Homo sapiens: one gene and its partner. The protein of the gene in region 1 interacts with the protein of each later gene in a pairwise test. Each region holds a gene or a part of one and is shown on either strand. Other genes may lie near its edges.

Region 1 (3,500 bases):
CAATTAAGTCACAAAAACAAAAAACTATTTTAGTTAAAGCACCTACAGCGACACTGGGTATCTTAATAAGATTATCCAAATTTATACATCAAGCAAGATTTGAGAACTTCCACTTGGAACCAAGTAATAGATCTTCTAGTCACTATCATTTTGCAGTATCAAAATCACACTTTGATAACCAGCATTACTTCTCACAGGAGGTAATGGTTAATTAGAAAAAAAACAGAAGCAAACTACTGTTAAAAGAAGTTACTTTAAGGTGATGAGAATGATGTTCAATTATGAATGGTTCTCACACTTTTTCACTTCATCGTTAAGGAAATACTGAGGACCCCAAAGAGCTTTTGTTTATGTGAATATTATGGAAAATGACCATATTAGATATAAAAACTGAGATTTAAAAAATTCATTTAAAAATCAAATCCATTACATATTAACAATGTTTATAAAAAACAACTGTATTTCCAAAGCAAAAAAAAAAAAAATAGAGTGGCAACATTTCACCATTTTTGTCTATGAAAAACAACTATATTTCCAAAGCAAAAAAAAAAAAAAAAAAAAATAGAGTGGCAACATTTCAACATTCATGTCTAGTGTAACAGAATTGGAGTCTCATTATCAAATCTACATTTCATCTCTTGCAAAATCATATGCATGTAGGCTCTGGAATACTCCACTGTACAGTCATGAGAGTATGAGAGTAGAAATGGCAAACAGCATCTCAGTACTACTATGAAAATAGCTTTGACCTCACAAACTAGCTGAAAGGGTTTCTGGGACTACCAGAAGTCCCCAGACCACATTTTGAGATGTCCCTGAATTATATTTTGAACTATATTAAATGCAGTTCTTGTTTTAGATATCTCATTTCAGATGAACAGCAAGCAGATTTCATTTAATATATAAACTCACCAAAGGGGGAAAAAACCTGGGAGCTATATAAAGAAACTGAAAAAAAACAAAAACAAAACAAAACAAAAAAACATGATTTATAAAAAAGTATTAACCCCCAAATCTGAACATGGCAATTTTATGACTGGTAGAGACTCAGCAAATTAAACTTATCTTAACACATATTTATTGAAGAACTTTCCAGTACCAAGGGTGCCAAATAAAAGTTGAAGAGTTTGCAGCTGAAGCATCACCAGGATCTATTAGAAGCAGTGAAGCCTGTGCACTTAAATGTGTCGGCACTTAAACCACCAGAGAGAAAGCTGGTTTTACTGCACACAAGCTCTTGATGTGGCACACCATGCAATGCCTACATTATGAGTATACAGCATTTATTTTTCACAACAAGGAAAATAAAACATACCTATATGCCTTCTTGTCATTTCTACCGTGGCATTTCGGTTAACATTGGAGAGTAAACCTAAGCAGAACCTCTCTGAATTTGATGGGTCTGTAAAGCCATCTACAGTGAGTGAGGGCTGTGATGCATGGAAGGTTTCTCCAACCCTCTGATTTAATTCATAATATGCTATCGAACACCAAAATGCAGGTTCTGAGTAAGTAACTGGCTGTAAATCTGAAAAAGAAAAAAATAAAAAAATAATAAAAGGAAGAAATGCGTGAACAATTCAAGCCAAAAATAGATTTAATATAATCATCTTTACATGCTCTATGCCAGCCTGCACTGGCAAAAGCTCAGGAAGTAGACATAGTATCTGTATCGGTTTCCACAGATGATACCAGATTTTCAGTATTTTTCACACAAAACTCCAGTTTCATAGATCATACCAGATTTTTTCAAATTTCTCCCATGTCATTAAATCACTTTATGTTGGATTCTTTGTTTTACCAGTAGTTTTAGTCTAGCTCCTGTTCAAATACAAAACAATCATAGGCAAAGTCAGTCAACTTGCCATACTTGGTGCATTTCTAAAGCACATAAAAAAGCTAAAGTGGGGTAAGATAAAGCCAGAGCAAAGATTAATGAGTCAAAAGCCACACAAAGAAAAACAGTAATAATAAAAGGATACAAAATATGACATATTTTTGACATTTGTCTATTTTAACATCAAACTCTTGGTGAGATACCCTAGCTACAAAAAGAGAAAACCCACTCATACATAAGAACCAGAAAGCAGTAACACACAAAGATCATGCAAGTAGAAACAGACCATAGAGTCAAAAGACTACTTATTTCACTGGAAAACTATATATTTAGCTTCTGCAGTTTGACTAAAACATATCATAAGGAATACTGCAAAAGAAAAAAACCTCACAATTTTGTAGAATAAATTCCAAACATGTAACAACCGAAGAGAAATTGTGAAATAGGGTAAAATGAGGGCAAAAATAATAATAGTAATACAGAAATGTATGTATATATATATATATATATATAGTCATCCCTTGGCATTTACAGGGGATTGGTTCTAGGACCGGCTCCCCCTAACTAAAAACCCTTAGATGTTCAAGTCCCTGACATAAAAGGGTGTAGTATTTCCATGTAACTTAAATTCACGTCATCCTGTATACTTTAAATAATCTCTAGATTACTTATAATACCTAATAATATAAATGCTATACAAATATTTGTTATACTGTATTTTAAAATTTGGGCCCAGCACGATGGCTCACGCCTGTAATCCCAGCACTTTAGGAGGTCAAGGTGGGTGATTCGTTTGAGGCCAGGAGTTTGAGACCAGCCTGGGCAACATAGTGAAACCCCATCTCTACTAAAAATACAAAAATTAGCTGGGTGTGGTGGCATGCACCTGTAGTCCCAGCTACTCAGGAGGCTGAGGCAGAGAATTGCTTGAACCCAGGAGGCAGAGGTTGCAGTGAGCCGAGATTGCGCCACTGCACTCTAGCCTGGGCGACAGAGCAAGACTCTGTCTCAAAAAATAAATAAAAATAAATACAATTTGTATTAGTTTTTACTGTCGTATTGTTATTTTCATTTTTTCCCGATTATTTTCAATCTGCAGTTGGTTGAATCTGCAGATGCTGAACTCATGGTTATGAAGGGACCATACACATACACATTTGTACATATATGTGCACACTCTCATATATATATTATATATAGTATATATATATTATTATATATATGTATAATATATATTATATATTATATATTATATATATTATGTATAATATATATTATATATTATATATATTATGTATAATATATATTATGTATGTTATATACATATTATGTATAATATATGTTATATATATTATACATAATATGTATAATATATATTATATATATTATATAATATATATTATATATTATGTATAATATATATAATATATTATATATATTATGTATAATATATATTATATATTATACATAATATATATTATATATTATATATTATGTATAATATATGTTATATATATAATATATATTATGTATAATATATGTTATATATATAATATATATTATGTATAATATATATTATATATTATATATATATTATATATATTATGTATAATATATATTATATATTATATATATATTATATATATTATGTATAATATATATT
Region 2 (3,500 bases), on another chromosome or scaffold:
AATGCTAGGATTACAGGCGTGAGCCACCATGCCCAGTGGTGGTCTACTCTTACATGTCTGTTGGAGGCCACATTTGCCAGATATTGTTGCTCCCGTCTTTTTTTTTTTTTTTTTTTTTTTTTTTTTGAGACAGAGTTTCGCTCTTATTGCCCAGGCTGGAGTACAATGGCGCGATCTCAGTTCACTGCAATCTCCACCTCCCAGATTCAAGTGATTCTCCTGTCTCAGCCTCCCAAGTAGCCGGGGTTACAGGTGCCCACCACCATGCCTAGCTTGTTTTTTGTATTTTTAGTAGAGATGGGATTTTACAGCCTAGCCGGCTGGTCTTAACTCCTGACCTGAGGTGATCCGACCTCCTCGTCCTCTCAATTGCTGGGATTACAGGCATGAGCCATGGCGCCTGGCCCGCCCCAGTCTAATTATTAGTCTGACATAAGTGTATTTTGGATAAACTACTTTTCCTAATATTCTTGCTCTGTGTTTATGTGAAAAACATCTGAGAACCATGATAAAGGTTTAAAAAAAAAAAGATGATGGATTAATTTACTTAACTGAAACAATGTGCTGAGGTTTGGTTAACACTGAAACCATCCTTCGTCTGGGATGTAATCCCTTTTTGTCCCAGAATTCACTGATTTGAATACATTTTCGATTTTAGGAAGGTGTGAGTTTCTTTCTGATCTTTTTGCTGTGTTATATTTTGCAGTATTTGAATTAGTGTTTGTGGTGTATTTTGATATTGCTTGTAATTTTATGTGAATTTGAGAAATTTAAAGGAATTTAAGAAAATTTCAAACACCCATACTTTAAGAAAGATTCTTTTCTTTGGTTCATATTTAATACGTACTTGAGTGGTTGTTTTATTATGCTTACCACTTCACGTTTTAAAAACGTACTCAGAACATTGTGAAGTACACTTATTTTTTAGGGTCTGTGAGGAAGGTGAATGACAATATTTCCACCTCTTAGATGAGTCACATGCTCCTGGTTGTATAACCAGAATCAGGAGTTGAATACAGGGCTTCTAACTCGAAGTTTAGTAATTTTTCACTATTTGCCCCTGAAGCACATGTTAGTAGCAGAAACTGAATTTTGAGAAACATTAACTTTTCTTATCAATTTACCTTAGTACAGGTTGAGCATCCCAAATCCAAAATCTGAAATGCTCTAAAGGCCAAAACTTTTTGAATGCTGACATGGCACTCACAGGAAATGCTCATTGGAGTATTTCAGATTTTGATTTTTGGATTTGGGATGCTCAACTGCCATATCGTGCACATATTCCAGAATCTGAAAAAATCAGAAATTCAAAATACTTTTGGTCCCAAGCATTTCTGATAAGGGATATTCAGCCTCTATGATGGTTCTCAAACTCTGTTTTAACCTGCATATAAATTTAAATACTAAGGTATTTAACTGAGAATGAGATAGTCCTTGACTGAGGAACAGTTTTTATTTTCTTCTGTGAGTCATTGAGTTGGTTGCCAAACAAGCCAAATTGACCCAGAGGGAGCTCATTTTAAAAAGTCAAACTAGGCTTTTTTTTTTTTTTTTTTTTTGAGATGGAGTTTCGCTCTTGCGCCCAGGCTGGAGTGCAATGGCGCGATCTTGGCTCACTGCAACCTCCGCCTCCTGGATTCAAGCGATTCTCCTGCCTCAGCCTCCCAAGTAGCTGCAATTACAGGCGTCTGCCACCATACCCAGCTAATTTTTTTATTTTTAGTCCAGACGGGGTTTCACCATGCTGGCCAGGCTGATCTTGAACTCCTGACCTCAGATGATCCACCTGCCTCGGCCTCCCAAAGTGCTGGGATTACAGGCATGAGCCATTGCGCCTGGCCTTTTTTTTTTTTTTTTTTAAGACTGTACTAAATATATTAACGTGTTATGTAAAGGACCTGATGTTTGGTGTGAATACTGACATGATTTGACATGCGTATATAGTTTATGTAATCAAAGTATTGCTTTTGGATTAAAAAAAGTCCTGAAACTCAGTAAGTTGTTCGAAATGAAACAACTTAATTATTTTACAATTATAAAATATGTAATATATTAATACATTTTAATGTTAATAAGTTGTAGTATCTTGTAAATTATAAATAATTTGAAATGAGACAACTTAATTAAATATAGCTAATAACTCTTTCTTACTCAAGTCGCCATAAGAAATATACTTGATTTTAGGCCAGGCGCGGTGGCTCATGCCTGTAATCCCAGCACTTTGGGAGGCTGAGTTGGGTGGATCACCTGAGGTCAGGGGTTCGGGACCAGCCTGGCCAATATGGTGAAACGCCATCTCTACTGAAAATACAAAAGTTAGCAGGGGATGGTGACACACGCCTGTAATCCCAGCTACTTGGGAGGCTGAGGCAGGCTTGAACCCAGGAGGTGGAGGTTTCAGTGAGCCGAGTTCACACTGCCCTTCATCCTGGGTGACAGAGTGAAACTCTGTCTCAAAACACACACACACACACACACACAGACACACACACACACACACATACTTGATTTTAGATCTGCCTATGTTGTTCTACAGAATGTTGTCAAGTTACTTACCTGATACGAGCTTTTTGTGTTTTTTATTGGAATAATCATTATTTTACTTTAAACTGTATAAATACATGCAAACATCACATTCCTGATTCTTTTTCACATCTTCAGTGGATATTCAGCAAAATCAGAAGTAGATCAAATATATGTAAACAAAAATAGAAAATTAAAATAAATTTGATCTAATTCTAATTTTGTTGAATATTACGTTTGTATGAAAAAAAGATCAACAGGCAAATTAATCATTTGTAAATAAAATTTGAAGAGTAATGTTTACTTAAGATTATTTTCAAACATATTGGAAGTGGTCATTTGTTGTAGGTGATTCTTCACTTTTTTTGTTTGTTTGTTTGTTTTTTTTGAGACGAGAGTCTCGCTCTGTTGACCAGGCTGGAGTGCAGTGGCGCGATGTCAGCTCACTGCAAACTCCACCTCCCAGGTTCACGCCATTCTCCTGCCTCAGCCCCCTGAGTAGCTGGGACTACAGGTACCCATCACCACGCCTGGCTAATTTTTTCTATTTTTTTAGTAGAGACGGGGTTTCACCGTGTTAGCCAGGATGGTCTCGATCTCCTGACGTCGTCATCCTCCCAAAGTGCTAGGATTACAGGCGTGAGCCACTGCGCCTGGCCGATTCTTCCCTATTGTAGCATGTGGCTGACAGTCTCCACTTTACTAAGTTAAGAACTATATATACCCTTTTTTTTTTTTTTTAAATTGAGATGGAGTTTCGCCCTTGTTGCCCAGGCTGGAGTGCAATGGCGCAATCTTGGCTCACTGCAACTTCCGCCTCCCAGGTTCAAGCAATTCTCCTGCCTCAGTGTCCCTAGTAGCTGGGATTACAGGTGCCTGCCACCACACCCAGCTAATTTTTTGTATTTTTAGTAGAGATGGGGGTTTCACTATGTTGGCCAGGCTGGTCTCGAACTCCTGATCTCAGGCAATCCACC

Evidence for each region. Proteins that work in one complex are often made in the same cells at the same time.
Region 2: the proteins of SMAD2 (region 1) and SKIL interact in binary tests that used the Homo sapiens proteins (3 or more experiments, as listed by UniProt).

The regions. Positions count from the first base shown.
Region 1 is NC_000018.10:47,847,160-47,850,659, forward strand, and holds part of SMAD2 (mothers against decapentaplegic homolog 2), read right to left. Parts: intron 1,529-3,500; coding exon 1,316-1,528; intron 1-1,315. UniProt on the Homo sapiens protein: Receptor-regulated SMAD (R-SMAD) that is an intracellular signal transducer and transcriptional modulator activated by TGF-beta (transforming growth factor) and activin type 1 receptor kinases.
Region 2 is NC_000003.12:170,364,215-170,367,714, forward strand, and holds part of SKIL (ski-like protein), read left to right. Parts: intron 1-3,500. UniProt on the Homo sapiens protein: May have regulatory role in cell division or differentiation in response to extracellular signals.